2 separate regions of the Homo sapiens genome follow, and region 1 is linked to region 2. Evidence: fine-mapped expression QTL. Tissue or cell type: whole blood. Region 2 holds a variant in brackets; the other region holds the start of a gene. All regions are shown on one strand. Distances are from middle to middle. Region 1 holds the start of ANXA2R (annexin A2 receptor). Region 2 holds the start of LOC105374748 (a long non-coding RNA gene).

The links.
Region 1: it holds the start of ANXA2R, and the variant in region 2 is fine-mapped to the expression of ANXA2R in whole blood (TOPMed, PIP above 0.99).

The regions. Positions count from the first base shown.
Region 1 is chr5:43,037,165-43,045,463 of GRCh38, reverse strand. ANXA2R (annexin A2 receptor) reads left to right here and starts at 5,145. Exons shown (of 1, transcript NM_001014279.3): 1 at 5,145-6,093. The coding sequence starts at 5,418. The coding sequence ends at 5,999. The region is part of intron 2 of ANXA2R-OT1 (ANXA2R overlapping transcript 1); the gene reads left to right. It overlaps ANXA2R-AS1 (ANXA2R antisense RNA 1), which reads right to left and starts at 3,330. Exons shown (of 2, transcript NR_015447.1): 1 at 1,897-3,330; 2 at 196-1,021. RefSeq lists enhancers at 648-1,147, 1,867-1,916, 1,724-2,259, 2,287-2,486, 2,567-2,776 and 7 more and a silencer at 4,882-5,151.
Region 2 is chr5:43,013,304-43,021,638 of GRCh38, reverse strand. It overlaps ANXA2R-OT1 (ANXA2R overlapping transcript 1), which reads left to right. Exons shown (of 3, transcript NR_104651.1): 3 at 6,489-6,910. LOC105374748 (a long non-coding RNA gene) reads right to left here and starts at 3,494. Exons shown (of 3, transcript NR_188279.1): 1 at 2,967-3,494; 2 at 2,323-2,403. RefSeq lists enhancers at 1,209-1,258, 3,326-3,465, 3,005-3,527, 3,926-4,165, 5,952-6,001. The variant A/G (reference allele first, on the strand shown) is at 3,393.

The sequences.
Region 1 (8,299 bases), 24 kb before region 2:
AGCAGTGGGCGGGCATTTGTTTTACAAAGGCTCTACCTAGGCTGTACCATCTGGTGAAGTGCTTGTAACTTTTAAGGTGGAAACGATGCCATTTTTCCTTTATTCTCCCGTCTGTAAGACCAGAAGGCAATTGGAGGATCCTCAAATACCAGGGAGAAACCAGGTAGCAGAAGAAGTAGTATGGTGGGAGGGGAAGATCAAAGCAAACGCCTGGGGAGTGAGTGACAATTGCGACCCCAAATTGGGTCTCCTGACTTGTCAAGGCCCTTCTCTGGGCTCCTCTGCACCTGTCCTCTGCCCAGGTTGATCCAGAAAAGGATGGAATTGGTTGCATGGTGTTTTCAGGATCCGATTGGGAGATGATGCGTTCGCGTGGGAACGCTCCTGGTAGGGTCTGTAAGCCTCTTAGGGGGATTACATCTGGATGTATAATTTTTTTTGGGAAATGTGAAAGCTTATGGGAAAAATACGTTTTACTTCCAAGCAGTGGCAGTTCCTTATTTCCTATGAGGAAGGAGTTTATAGCCCCACTCTTGACTGAAAAGTGTGAGAGACAATTCAAGCGCTTGAAAATTCACCTGTTTTGCATTTCCGGAAAGACAGAGAAAGCGTCAGTGATCCATTTCACAGATCAAGGGTATAGGAAAGTGGATGGCACTTTGAGATGTTCATTAGGTTTGGAGAGGGAGCAGACATCTGCCAGCAATCCCACCTCTTGTGCTGGAGTCTTGCAGTTCATTTTTCTCTCCTGCCCTCTTCCAAATCCTATGTCCAATATCAAGGATATCTGACAGTTAACCATCAGAATCAACGAGCGTTCCCACAGAGTTCCGTCCTGCAGGAGAGGTACCGGGACAGGGGCGGGAGACCTGAAGCTGCGATCAGAAAACGCTGTGCCTTTTACGCTCCTAAGGAACCTTAGACCGAGAGTTTCAAGTTTCAAAGGCAAGCAGTTGTTGGCCCCTCCTGTAGGATCCTGTGGGCTCTGGACCGGGAAGAGAGCCTGGCAGCGAGGGGTGACCTGGAAAAGCCCAGTCACAGAGGGTGGATGGCTGTTTCCTGCGTAGGAAGCTGTTGGCGACCAGAATGGTTTATACTTTGTTCCTGGGACCAACAGGATCTGCTTGGTTCTCGGCGCATAAGCCCACTACTCTCCCCCTGCGTAATGCACTGGGTGGAATGCAAGAACAATACAGACTTCCTGCGGGCCTCGGTGGCCCACGCCTGTGATCCCAGCACTTTGGGAGGCCCAGGCGGGCGAATCGCTTGAGCTCAGGAGTTCGAGACCAGCCTGGGCAACATAGCGAGACCGCCGTCACTAATATATATATATTTATATATATATATTTCATATATAATATATATTTTATATATAATATATATTTTATATATAATATATATTTTATATATAATATATATTTTATATTTTATATACTATATAAAATATATTATATATAATATATTATATATAATATATTATATATCTTATATATTATATATTATATATAATATATTTTATATATTATATACTATATTTTATATATTTTATATATTATATATAATATATTATATATTATATATTATATATAATATATTATATATATTATATATAATATATAATATATAATATATTATATATATTATATATAATATATTTTATATATAATATATATATTATATATTATATATATATTATATAATATATATATTATATAATATATATATTATATATAATATATAAATAAATATATATTTATATATTTTATATAATATATAAAAATATATATTTATATTTATATATTTATTTATATTATATATAAATATAAAATATATATTTTAATATATATATTTATATATATAAATATATATAAATTAGACGGGGGTGGTAGCACTCACCTGTGGTCTCGGCTACTCTAGAGGCTGAAGCGGGAGGATCGCTGGATCCCAGGAAGTCGAGGCTGCACTGAGCCAAGATGACACCACTGCACCAGCCTAGGCGACAGAGGAAAAAAGAAAAGAAAAAGACATCAGACTTCCCTAAGCCCGTGGGGGACAGAGTGGGTAGAGCCAGTAGCACTTTGGTGGCACCGAGCGCGCAGTTGGTCGGTCGCTGCACCGTTCCTTTCCCAGCGCCGGCTGTTTCTCACTGGCAACGCCACGCCTTTGTCAGCGTTATCGGACGCTCTCTGGCGGCAACCTTCTCACGGCCAAAAATTATCTTTTGCAACTGCACAGACATTTGCTACGGGCAGCTGATCGCTGGGTCCCAGCGCCGCTGGTTTCACAATTTCGCGGGTGCCCCCCACCATCCCCAGCCCGCAGCATAATCGGTGAAGGGAGCCTGCGGTTTCTCCGCCGCGCCTTCGCCCGTTGCGTCCTGCGAAGCCAGTGGAATCGGTGGTCACAAGGTTGGTTTCACCAAGTCGGGCGTTTCTTGGCACTGGCACCGCTCTGCGCTTTTGCTGGCCCAGGCCGGTCTCAGCACCGTTAGGTGCTCTCTAAAGGCGACTGTCTGTCGTGGTTAGGAAAGCTGCTATGGGACGACAGTTTTTTAGAAGTTTCTAGTCTAGCCCAGCTGGCGGTTTCTGGATCGCAGAACCACTGATTGCGCGGAGCTGGATGTACTTCTGTGGCCGCGCATGTTTCTCTGTGGTATCCCTACGGCTGTCGTCGAAATCGCGGTGTTTCTCTGGCCCCACCGCCACGTGGGCAACTTCTTCAGTGGCTGCGGGGTTCTCTCCACTGAGTTGCTGGTTTTGATCCACGCTTTCTCCCAGAGAGCAGACGAGACACTTTTCTGTTTGTGTCAACTGCTAGTCGTGCTGTGCACAGTTTCCTCGTCTCGGTGCGGGGCTTTCTCCATCCGAGGCCCTCTAGTGCCGGCTTCGCGGTCGCAGCACCCGGCGTTTCCGTTGGCTCTTTCGCCAGCGGCGCGAAGCCGGCGGTTTTGCTGTCACAGCACTTGCTGCACGGAGTTTCTCGGTAGCCGAACTTCTCTTTTTTTCTCAGAGTCGACGGTTTCTTGGTGACGGCACCGCTGGTTGCGCCAAAACAAATGTTGTCCTTGACAACCCCGCCGGCTGCATTCCCTTTCAGGCTCCTGGCACCGCCATTTCGGCGAGCCGTGGTCTCTTGTTCACAGCTCTGTGCCTCCATTTCTCGGTGGCGGCAGCCCTCAGGCCGCGGATCTGAGAGATTTAAAGTCGCAGCTGCCCCCGTTGCGCCGAGTCTGGCGTTGCCGGATGGGTGCTGCAGGGCTGGGCGGGGGGAGCCCGACGCTCCTTGGAGCCGGTGACAGGGGAGCTGCAGGGGCACAGTCTCTTCCCAGCGCCGCCGCACGGGTTCCGGCTCGGCCTCCAGAACGCAGTCCTGTGGCGGCGCCGCCGGCGTCTCTGTCGCAGGACCCCACGGTTTCGCGCGTCGTTGGCTTCTTAGTCCTAGCAAGTTTCGATTTCGCGGTGCCTGGGATTTCCACCCTCTGTCCAAGTAGGGGAATAGCCAAAATGTATTTTCTCAGCCCAAGCAAGTCCTGACTTAAGACAAACACCGGTCTAGCCCTGGCTGCGATATCTAGGCCGTAGGAACTCACCCGTTTCCCCATGCGAAGGCGAAGTTACCCTGTGACTCGTTGGTCAGCAGCTCCGGGTTTCCAGTGGCCTCGGATTTCTAATCATAACAACCATGGGGTCAGCCTAGCCTCAAGTTTCTTAGTCCTAGCAAGTTCCGGTTTCCTACTGGTAAGACTTGCTTTAGCTGCGCAGGAAATGTTTAACTCCTGTGGAAATCTGGGTACCAGCGAATGCTTTTTTTTTTTTTTTAAAGGTTTAGCGATGACCAGTTTAGCAGTGTTGGGAGCTCTTATACCAAGTTTGGTTTCGCAATATCGAGTCCTGTCTTAGCTATGCTTGTGTGTTTTTAAAACTCCCGTGGAAGTCAGGAAATGCCGGCGATCGCGATGTCTCAGTTTTACCAAGCTCCCTTTGACAATAGCAAGTCCTGCCCATCGAGACTTTTTCCTCTTGTAGACCAAATCGGGATGTACCAGCTACTACGATTTTTTAGACGTAGCTAAACACGTTTAACCGTGGATATTTTTGTTTTTTTTCTCGTAGGAAATTATGACAGGAGCAACCTGCAGGGGTTTAGATCTGACAGAAATATTCTAATGGTAGGCATTGCATCGCTTAGCCATATTTGTAATTTCTTCTTTGTAGGGTTGGTTCTCTGTAACTTTTGCTTACCTTAAAATTATTTTTGTGTCTTGCTCTGAGGACAATGTTACCGATGTGTTTTTCATTTTTACTTGCATTTCAGACTTTCATTATTTTAAATTATGTATTTTTTTTTTCTTCTAATTTTGAGCGTCTCAGATTCGTGCTTCTTGACTTTCATTCTCTCAGGAGCCGGGGAGCCGAGCTCGGTCTTAGCCTCGCTGGTATCAGGTTCCGGGTTCTGTCTGGAGGCTCCGCTTCCTATGCAGAGCTGGCGGTTTTGTATCAGCACGTTTGCCAGTGGCGCCCACTGGGCGTTTTCTCAGTTGCTGCACCCAACGTGACATTTCCCGTTCGCGGGGTCCTTAGGTTCTCAGTGCTGTCACTTTTTCGCTCCTACAACCGCTAGTATCTCCTAGGAACTTCCTGAACCCCGTTTTGCCGTGCAGAACGGTGATTGCACCGAGCCGCTGTTCGCACTAGTAATTGTGTGGTACCATTAGCCGGCGCTTTTTCTGTCACAACCCATTAAAACGGGTTAAAACATATTAAACCTATCAAACACATTGAACGGATTAAAACACATTAAATGCCGCAACACATTTTTCTGGTACAACACATTGAAACAGAGTTGGTTCATTCCTCCAAACAGGTTGTTTAGGTGTGGAAGCACCGCTCTTAGTTCTAAGAGCATGCTGTTTCTCTTTAGCAGCACCCTTTACGGCGCCAAAACGGATATTTGTTTGGCAATACCAGCGCTATCCGCTAGGTGCCGGCGCTTGCTAAGTTCAACGCGCCAGTTTCTCGTTTGCAAGGTGGTTAGGGCAGAGCCCTAGCAGACAGTTTTCCGGTGGCAGCAACGCTCATTTCCCGGAAACGGGTGGTTCTTGGCCCTTGCGCGCTCTTGAATACCTGCGTTCTGTAGCGCTAGTTCTCTTCAAGATTTGCTTAGTGTCATTTCATTTCGGTTTCTTTTCTCGCCATGTTTTTCTGTCGGAATTACGGTTCGTTTTGGTTCTATGTACTCTCTAAAATGTTATCGTTTTTCATTTGTCTACTAATTTTCGTGCATTTGTTACTACTGAGTTTCTTAATATCTGACTGGCCTCCGCCCACGGGCTCTGCAGAGCATAAATACTCAGGCTGATGGTAGTGCAGAGACTCTCCCTCCTTGATCAGCGCAAACGTTGGTCTGAGGCTTGAGGGATGGAGCAACATTTTCTTGGCTGTGTGAAGCGGGCTTGGGATTCCGCAGAGGTGGCGCCAGAGCCCCAGCCTCCACCTATTGTGAGTTCAGAAGATCGTGGGCCGTGGCCTCTTCCTTTGTATCCAGTACTAGGAGAGTACTCACTGGACAGCTGTGATTTGGGACTGCTTTCCAGCCCTTGCTGGCGGCTGCCCGGAGTCTACTGGCAAAACGGACTCTCTCCTGGAGTCCAGAGCACCTTGGAACCAAGTACAGCGAAGCCCACTGAGTTCAGTTGGCCGGGGACACAGAAGCAGCAAGAGGCACCCGTAGAAGAGGTGGGGCAGGCAGAGGAACCCGACAGACTCAGGCTCCAGCAGCTTCCCTGGAGCAGTCCTCTCCATCCCTGGGACAGACAGCAGGACACCGAGGTCTGTGACAGCGGGTGCCTTTTGGAACGCCGCCATCCTCCTGCCCTCCAGCCGTGGCGCCACCTCCCGGGTTTCTCAGACTGCCTGGAGTGGATTCTTCGCGTTGGTTTTGCCGCGTTCTCTGTACTCTGGGCGTGCTGTTCACGGATCTGTGGAGCTAAGCAGCCTTAGATAGCAGCAGAAGGCTTTTTGGATTCTCCTCCTTGAAAAGATTCTCAGTTACCAAACGTCTCCACCTAGAAAATAAAAATACATTAAGATGTGCTTTCATTGCTGGTTGTCAGTTTTTAAATTCTCTTTTTCCCTTATGTTTCTTTCTTGTTTCGCGTCGCTTATTACTTTCAGTTTCCTTGTATTTTAAATATTTGTATTTATTTCATTAAATATTTCATTCGTATCTGTTTTCACTTTGAGAAATCTATTTTACGATTGTAGAATTCTTAGAGTTTTTGGCAAATTTAAAATTTGTTTTTTTCCATTGTATTTTAAAATCTTATTCCTACTATTTTTCTAATTATTGCTTTTTAAATGTATTGTTTGTTTACATTTAATTTTATATCATGTCTTTTACGTTATTATAACGTCTTTTTAATTTTAATTGTTAATTTTATTTTTAACAGCGGTCTTTCTTTTTTTCAGTATATCGATTCATTGTTTTACACTCAGGAATTTTATTCACGATCATAAGACTGAGAGGTTTATCAATCTTTGCTATTTCTCGTGGAAGGACCACGCAATTACTTATATTAATACAACTTCACAGATGACCAGTTCTTAAGATTACTTATTCTGGCGGGGCAGCGTGGCTCACGGCAGTAATCCCAGCACTTTCAGCAGCGGAGGCATGCGGATTGCTTGAGCTCAGGAGTTTGAGAAAAGCCTGGGCGACAGGGTGAGGCCTGTGTCTACAAAAAATGCAAAAGTTAGCCCTGTGAGATGGTGTGCACCTGTAGTCCCAGCTGCTCCGGAGGCTGGGGTGGGCGGGTTGCTTGAGCTCAGGAGGTCGAGGCTGCGGTGAGCCGGATAGCACCAACGCCCTCCAGCAGAGCGAGAGCCTGTCTCAAAATAAATAAATAATTGAAAAGACTACTTATTCATGGGTCTCAGGGCTAGCAGTGTTTCCAGCGTCTTTTTCTTTGGAACAGTTTAGCTTGGCTTATAAGAGAACTACCAGTTACTTAATGGTACCACAACTGGGTTTAGCAATTCGGGTAGGCACAGCAGGTCCGGCTTGGCCCTGCCTGCTTTGACTGCCTTTTCGGGAGTTTTAAACCTCCTACACTCGGAATGTAGCCCTGATTGTGGTTTCTCTGCATAGCAAGTTCGGACTTAAGCGGAATAAGTATCGGCTTATTTCGCCTGCGATAAAGATGCTTAATTCTGCGTTCGAAATATTCTGAGCGAGTCCTGGGTTAGGGATTTCTTAGAGTAACAAGTGCATGCTTCGATTTTAAGTGCCCCTGTGAATGTGATTTCTTAGCTCTTGCAAGTCCATATTTGGTCGCAACCAGTACTAGCATAGCCATGCCTGCGACTCCTTAGTCCCAGTAACTTTCGGTTTCATAATAACTTACCCTGCTTTACTTATGCCTGAGTTTTAAATATAGAAGTCCGGGCACGTAGGTGAAGAAGATATTTTAGGAGTAGCAAGTAGCGGTTTAGCAGTGTCTGCAGTCCCTTAGTTAGAAGTCCTGGTGAGACCGAGCAGATACTGATATAGGCCTGACAGCGATATTACCTCTGTGAAACCACATTGTTTAGAAGTGTTTGCATTTTCTTCTTTGTAGAGTCCATTTTTCCATGTTTTGCTTAGTTTTGAATTTTCATTTGATGAATCTTCCCAAATGTATTGTTTTTATTGTGTGTGCGTGTGTTTTTCAGCTAACTTGCCCTTTAAAAAAAAATTGTTCCTAATTTTTGTTTTGCTGACCCTCAGCTTTATGCTGTCTGGTTTGCGCTGGCCTGTAATTCCCGGAACTAAATATTCTATTCTTTTGGCCTAACTGGCCTTTCGTCGATGGCATTACTGCTAGTTTTGCCGCTCTAGGTGCTCCTCGGTGTTAGCACTGCCGGTTGCTTCTGTGAGGCTTGCTAGAGCCCAGGACGCTGAGGTGCTGGGTGACCCCGTTTCGGTGCAACCACTCCGAAGGTTCTCGGTTTATCCAGCTGTGTTTTGGAACAAATGCCAATTCTTCCTGGGAGCAAGTGTCTTTCAGTCGCGTTCCTGGCTGTTTTCTTCAAAAGCAGGCGTTTCTCCTGGTAGCACCGCTTGTTGGCGACGTCGGATTCTTTTCCGTGGCAGTACTGGTCGTTTCATGGAGTGGCCGGTTTCTCACTCGCACTGTGCCGGCTGGCAGTTATTCCGTGGAGGCGCAGCTCTCAGCCGCTTCCCTTGGTTCTCGGTGTCGGCTGTCCCTGTACCTGCGTTTGTGGCGGTATTTCTGTCACAATCGAGTCTGTGTTTTTTCGAT
Region 2 (8,335 bases):
GAGAAGGGCCTGATTTCTGCTAAGATGTGGGCATAGTTAAAGGATTACCAGCCTTTATTCCAGAGGTCACAAGATTTGCAACTTCCCTAATTACTAGAACCTAGGTTTGGCTTTTTGAGATGACTTTTCAGACTTTGATGGCCCCAACAGCATCAGCCACTCCTCTGTGGCCGCCACTCAAGAAATGGACTGAGTGCAGGAGGACTGTTTTCCACACCCCTGTGATTGTTCCTCAGCTGAGCAGCAGCACCCTTCTGCCAAACTATCCTTGAAAAACCTTGGCTTCTGAATTTTCTGGGAGGCTGATTTGAGTAATAATAAAATTCAGGTCTCCAATTTAGCCAACTCTGCCCATATTAAACTCTTTATTGCAATTCGCTGTCTTGACAAATCAACTCTATCTGGGCAACAGGCAAAATGAACATATGGGCCAGTTACAGTTATGTCCCTGTCAACCATTATTATAGACTGTGAATATCAGGTGTTTACCTAAGTAAGAACCTTAAGGTTAAATAAATGGATTTTTCTCTTCTGTCAGTAACCCAAGATTTAGCTGTTTTCTTTAAACCAATGATATTAAATGCCTTATTTACCAAAATTACATGAACAAAGATAATTCTGTTTGGGGTTGCATTTATAGATTTATAACCTTCATGCCAAATTTTCACGCCTTATAATATCTAGCAGAGATAAATCAGAAACCGCTGACCAATAAATCTAAACAATAATGTATATTGACAATTCTGAAGACATTTCTAATTTTATTTTACTGATAATTTTAAATGCAGCTTATTTGTCAAAGATTTACTTAAATCAAGTGAACCTGAAAAATCATTTGGGCTTAAAGTTTCTATTTTTCTGATAAAGTATTTAATTGAAGCCACTAACAAGGGCTGGAAAGCAGTCCCAAATTACAGCTGTCCAATGAGTACTCTCCCAGTACTGGATAAAAAGGGAGAGGCCACCGCCCACAACCTTCTGAACCCAGAGCAGGTGGAGGCTGGGGCTTTGGCGCCACCTCTGCGGAATCCCAAGCCCCCTTCGCACAGCCAAGAAAACGTTGCTCCATCGCTTAAGCCTTAGAGCAGGACACAAGCGTTTGTGCTGATCAACGAGGCAGAGCCTTCAGCACTCCCATTAGCCTGGACATTTATGCTTTCCGGAGGCCGTGGGCGGAGGCAAGCCAGGTATTATGAAACTCAATAGTAATGAATGCACAAAAATTAGTAGTCAAAAGAAAAACGATAACATTTTAGAGATTACATAGAACCAAAACAAACTGTAATTCCGACAGATAAACATAGCAAGAAAAGAAACCGAAATAAAACAGACACTAAGCAAACCTTGCAGAGAACTAGCTTTACAGATCGCAGCGCTTCAAGGGCCACGAACCATCTGTTCCAGGAAATGAGCATTACTGCCACCTGAAAACTGTCCGCTAGGGCTCTGAGCTACTTAACGACCGAAAGAGAAACTGGCGGCGCTGGGACTCAGCAAGCGCCGGCACCTAGCGAATAGTGCTGGTGTTGCCAAAAAATACCTGTTTTGGTGCCATAAGTGGTGCTGCCAGAGAGAAACCGTGCTCTTGGGAAACAGCGGTGCTTCCACGCCTAAACATCCTCTTCGGAGGAATGAACCCACTCCGTTTAAATGTGTTGTGTCAGAAAAATGTGTTGAGACATTTTAATGTTTTAATCCTCTTAATGTGTTTAATCCGCTTGCAGTATTTTAACCCGTTTTAATGTGTTGTGACAGAAAAAGCGCCAGCTAACGGTGCTATGAAATTACTAGTGCGTACAGCGGCTCCGTGCAATCACCGTTCTGCACAGTAAAACATGGTTTAGGAAGTTCTTTAGCAGATACTAGCGGTGCGAGAACCAAGAAAGTGACAGCACAGAGAACATAAGGACCTGGCGAATGGGAAACGTCACACTGGGCGCTAAGAACGGTGCCGTAACTGAGAAAACGCTAGTCGGCTCTACTGGCAAAAGCGCTGATGCAAAACCATCAGCTCCGCATACGAAGGAGAGCCACCAGACACAACCTGGCACCTGACAGCAGGGAGACTGAGACCGAGCTCGGCTCCCCGGATCCTGAGAGAATGTAAGTAAAGAAGCAGGAAGCTGAGACGCTCAAAATTAGTAGAAAAAAAATACATAACATTTAAATAAAATCAAAATTAAAAAAATAAAGGCTAAAATGCAAGTAAACATGGAAAGCAAACACATCGGTAACATCGTTCTCAGAGCAAAAGACAAAGAGAGAATTTAAAAATAAGCAAAAATTACAGAGAACCAATCCTAGAAAGAAGAAATTACAAACCTTGCTAAAAGATGCAATCCTACAATTGTGATATCTCTGTCAGATCTAAACCGGTACATGTTACACCTAAGTCTACATTTCCTACGAAAACAAAAACAAAAACAAACAACACCAACAAAAAAAAGCAGTCACGGTTAAACCTTTTTTACTACGACTTAAAAATCGCAGTAGCTGGTCTATTCAGACTTGGTCCACAAGAGGAAAAAGTCGCGTTCGGCAGGACTTGCTATTGCCAAACGGAGCTTGGTAACCAGAAATCGCGTTTGCGGACATTTCCTGACTTCCATGGGAGTTTAAAATACACACAAGCTTAGCTAAGGTGGGACTCAATATTGCGAAAACAAACTTGGTATAAGAGCTCCCAGGCACTGCTAAACTGATCATCGGTAAACCTAAAAAAAATCGCATTCGCGGGTACCCAGATTTCTTTTTCTTTTCTTTTTTTTTTTTTTTTTTTTTTTGAGTTGGAGTCTCGCTCTGTCGCCCAAGCTGGAGTGCAGTGGCGCGATCTCGGCTCACTGCAAGCTCCGCCTCCCGGATTCACGCCATTCTCCTGCCTCAGCCTCCCGAGGAGCTGGGACTACAGGGACCCGCCACCACGCCCGGCTAATTTTTTTGTATTTTTAGTAGAGACGGGGTTTCACCGTGTTAGCCAGGATGGTCTCGATCTCCTGACCTCCTGATCCGCCCGCCTCGGCCTCCCAAAGTGCTGGGATTACAGGCGTGAGCCACCGCGCCCGGCCGGTACTCCGAAGCCCTCAGATCGGCGACCTGGGCGCTGTAGGCACCGAGAAAATACAGGCACCGAGCCAGAAGCAGTGCCGCAACCAAGAGACCTCGGCTTGGCGAAATGGCGGCGTCTGGAGCCTGCGAGTGACGCCAGCTGGTGGGGCTGTCAAGGAGAACATTCGTTACGGCGCAACCAACGGTACTGTCACCAAGAAACCGTCGTCTCTGAGAAAAAAAGAGACGTTCGGCCGCCGAGAAACTCCGTACAAGTGCTGTGACAGAAAAACCGCCGGCTCCGCGCAGCGGCAAAAGAGCCAACGGGAACGCCGGGTGCTGCGACC[A/G]TGACCCCGGCACTGGAGGACGTGGGATGGAGAATGGGACACACGGAGCGAGAAGGGAAACGTTTCGTGCAGACCAACTAGCGCCGCCGCCACCGGAAAACTGACTCGCCAGTGCTGCCAATGAAGTGCGTGTGAGAAACCGATGACTGGTGGGAGGAGCAGCGCTGGGCGCTGGACCCGCGAGTGTGAGAATCTGGCGGCGCTAGGACCCTTCAGGCGCGGGCACGAGGCGAAACCCAGCGCTGTTGCCAAAGACAAATGCGCGTTCTTTTGGGCGCCATCAGCGGTGCAGCCAGTGATCACTCCCAGGCTCTGAGAAACTAGAGATGTCAGCCACAAACCCTCCGTTCAGGGAAAGTTTGCGGCGCCGTGACGGATCGACTGGCACTGGGTGCAACATTGTCTTGTGGCCTAGAGACTAGAATATAAAAACAAAAACCAAATACAAAACTGCTGCTGGCATTACTCCTACTCTCCCCCCTCAAGTCAGTGGCTTCAGGCTTAAGAAAACCTGTATTTTTCTTGGCTGTGCCATAATCCGTAATTACCGAGGCCCCCAGCGACCCACCCAGTGTGATTCGCAGAGGGAAAGGAGCTGGAATAAGGACCGTGAATGGGGCGGATGTGGCTCGTCCTGGGAGAGAGCTAAAGCTTATGCTGGTCGCAAACAGCATTACATTGCAGGAAACTGCTCTTCCAATGGCCGTGGCTGGGTCCTTCCACACCATCCCTCTGCCCTAGACCTTTGTCCCCGTTCAGAGCCATCAGAGATTCTAGGAGAGCTGTCGACAACCGCATCTCTTCGGAACTTGGAAACTCTAGGTTCAAGATCTCCGTGGAGAATGAAAGGCACAGTCGCCTGACCCGGGCATCAGGCTTGCCCCGCACATCAAGTCCCTCCCCTACTGGATGGAACTCTGTGGCAATCGCTCCTTATTCTGATGGTTCACTCTGTCAGATATCCTCGATATTTGGGGATAGTAGTTCAAAAACAGCCGGGGAGGAAAATGGGCTGAAAGATTCCAGCGTTGGATGTAGAATTGACAGCGAGACATACACCTCCTCTCTAAGCCCAGAGAAAAGCTCAAGTTGTGGTTCTCTGTCTCTAGCAGCATGATCTTCAAAATGCATCATTGATTTCTATCTTCTGGGAAATGCAATGCAGGTGAACTTGTAAGTGCTCAAATCCTCCATCTCCTCACTTTTCAGACTGAGGCCTTTTTTTTTTTAAATCTGAGAAGAAATATGGGACTGCCACTGCTCAGTAGGAAAATGTCCTTTCCCACAAGCATTTATATTTTAATAAAAATCTGCACTTTGTGAGTTGAGCCCCCTCAAAGAGACCTACAAACCCTGCCACAAATATCTCCAACCACACTCATCATTTCCGATTTTCATCACTGCTGCTCCTGTGCAAACCAAACTATCCTTTCCCTGGGGCATCCTAGGTAGAGGCCATGCCAGGACAAAGGCAGAGATATGCCTGCCTGGTAAGGAAATCCATTTTGGCCTTGTAATTCTCACCCTCTCCCAAGATGTTTGCCTCAATATCTCCTTCCCACCTTACCCCGTCTTCAGCTAGCCAAAACATTCCCTGGTATTTGAGGCCCTTCCAATTTCCTCCTGGTTTTGTGGGTGGGAGAATAAAGAAAAAACTGCACTGTTCCCACCCACATAGTTACAGCCACTTTATCAAACGGAAGAGCAGTCTGGAGCCATTGCAAAACAAAATACCTGCCACAACTCCTCTCTTCTCATTTCGACTCCAGCTTTTCATCTTAGCAAAAAAGTTGCAATCAGCACCCCCTAGACGGAAGGAATATCCTGTCTTAATGGGAGTCCATAGGAGGCTGCAGGCTGCTCCCCTACAGAGACTAACATCAAGGTAGTTGCAGAATTCAGATTCTAATTACAGTGTGGTTGGAGGCGGGGTGGATTCCAGGGAGGTCAGGAAGAGGTAAAGTACAGAATTGAGCTCCTTGGGAGGAGGTCATAGGAACTTTGCAGTATGAAAATGGCTAGAGATTGGGTAGAATTGAGCAGGCTGGCAATGGCAGTTTTGTGTGGGTGGTAGGACCTAGGATTCAAACTTGAGGGCAAATTGTGGAGCACATACGACAAATGATGTAGAGCCTTTCCTATTTCCCTTCCTGCTGTGTCATCCGAAACAATAAATAATAAAGAATTAACAAAGACTGATATTTTTGTTCAATTTCATGAAGAAAAATCTCATCAAACTAAGATAACTATAATGACAAATCTTGTTAGAATATTATTAACCAAATGAAAGTGACACAAAACAGAAAAACGGTGGGAGGTGGGAGGGCCAAGAAAGAAAAAGTCCCCAACACTCAGGTGGTGTGTACAGGTGAATCTTCTGGTCAGTTGGTATGTTGCAGAAAGCTGGGCAACTAATAAATTAGGAGGCAGGAATTCATATGAATACTTTCCTGATACAGAGAAACTCTTGGTTTTAACAATCTACTTCTTTGTCAGGTATTGGTTCTTGATTTTAGGCTCAGAAAAGATGGTAACAGTTATAACTGTAGTAGAGCAGGTAAAAACAAAGATCATGCAGGAGTCTAGACAGAAAGTAAAAGGCAAAAATGTCCCAGGGTAAGTAATCTAGAGTAAGAAAGTGAAGAATTCTGCTTGGTGCCAACGGAGGGCTCCACCATGCCTCTGGTTCACCTACAAAAAATGAACCATTTGCTGTTGGTCTCTGGGATTGAAGATTCACCCTCCCAATTTCCTGCCTGTCCTAAGCTTACCTGTAACTTAGAGGGTTTTGTGTCTGTTTTTTTGTTTGTTTTGTCTGTTTGTTTTGTAAAACACTCTCTACAAATGTTTGATAGATTATAAACCGCAGGATCCACTAGACCCTGCAAGGTGCAGGGGAGCCCTGTGACTACCACTCCAATGCACCTCCACACATGTTCTTCCTCCTAGTTCCTCCACAGAATTTCTTCTTCCTGGTTCCATTTGCTGTAGTAATTTGGGGCTGTATTCACTGACAAGTTCCAAAAGTTTACCCAATTTTGGTGACCGATAAACTCTTGACTAACAATTATGTGTGTGTGTTTGTCTTTCCTGTAGGAGGAAATCAGTGGTGCTTCAGGATATTGTGAATTTGGTCTTCTGAAAGCAGAATTCTGATTTAACAGTATAATGGAATTCGTGAACGTCATGATGCTAATTTGAACCAACAAGCACCCTTGTGAGAGGAATCTGCTTTTCCTCAAGTCTGAAGAACACCAGGAGAATCTTTCTGTATGGAGTTACCAGGAATCCTCTGCTAAGGAAAGTGAAAGGGAAGATGCAATTTCTCCTGGGAAGGGGGGATGCTGATGTAGAGGGTGACAAGTAATATGCCATGAAGGATTCAGTCACCTGGTTAGATTTAGAGTTAGAGTTATGGTTAAGGAAGAAGGAAGGAAAAAAGGCAGAAGAGGAAGAAAGGAAGCAAGAAAAGATAAAATTTATTCTAAGATAAAATTTGTGAATTTTGCTAAACTATATATATTTATTTATTTATTTATTTTATTTATTTATTTATTTTTGCTGTCATTAGCCAAGATAAGGAATCTTCAAGTTGAGTAAGACTGGATTTAGAATTGTCTGGGGGCTTTCAAAAGAGCCATTCAGTAAATAAGAAAGAATACAGGCCTGCAGCACCAGAGTCTGAGCTGGGGGCATAGGTTTGTGTGAATTTGGGCATGGTGGCTCAGGTCTGTAATCCCAGCACTTTGGGAGGCTGAAGTTGAGGACTGCTTGAGCTCAGGAGTCTGAGACCACCCTGGGCAACATGGGGAGACCCCATCTCTACAAAAAAATAAAAAATATTAACCCAAGGTGGTGGCATGCACCTTGCTGCCAGCTACTGTGGAGGCTGAGGTGAGAGGATTGTTTAAGTCCAGGATGTTGAGACTGCAGTGAGCCCTGTTTGTGGCACTGCACTCCTGCCTGGTCCACAGAGGGAGACTCTGTCTGAAGGTGGGGAAAGAAAAGATTTGTATGAATTTGGTGCTGCTTTGTATTTCAAAATAGGAAAGTGGATATACGAATATATGGCATAAAAGGTCCAGATACTGGACCCCAGTGAACTCAATTGTTTTCAAGGTCTGACTTTAACCTTGCTAGGCTGAAGAATCTGGAATGGCTCAGATGTTTCTAGTTCAGCTGTAACTTTTGCCTCCTTTAGAGTAAAGCTGTGGGGGACTTGAGTATACTCAGAGTGGATCTGAGAGGTATCTGCTTCCAGAATGAATTAGAATTCCTGGATTTGAATCATAATCAGATGGCTGTTAAGGGGTTATTGAAGACATATGGCTCTTAAGTTCACAATATTGAATTCAGGTGAATATTATAAATATTTGTAAGTTGGATTATATTATTGAAGCACTTGGTAAAAATTGCCATGCAGGGATAAATGTAGGAAGGGGATTGCAGAGTCTGATATCTAAAAAATAAGTGGAGCAGCATTTGGAAACCCCGTTCACATTTTCAATCTCTTTTCTCTCATTAGAACCTAACTGCTATCCTCTAATCCCTACTTTTGAAAAAATGTATTTAAGGCTGGGCGTGGTGGCTCACGCCTGTAATCCCAGCACTTTGGAAGGCCGAAGTGGGTGGATCACGAGGTCAGGAGATCGAGACCATCCTGGCTAACATGGTGAAACCCCATCTCTACTAAAAATACAAAAAATTAGCCGGGCGTTGTGGTGGGCACCTGTAGTCCTAGCTACTCGGGAGGCTGAGGCAGGAGAATGGCGTGAACCCAGGAGGCAGAGCTTGTAGTGAGCTGAGATCGCGCCACTGCACTCCAGCCTGGGCGACAGAGCGAGACTCCGTCTCAGAAAAAAAAAAAAAGAAAAAATGTATTTAAAAACTCAGCAAACATTAATGGAGATATTCCAAGAGCCAGGCTCCTGGTTCCAAGACCC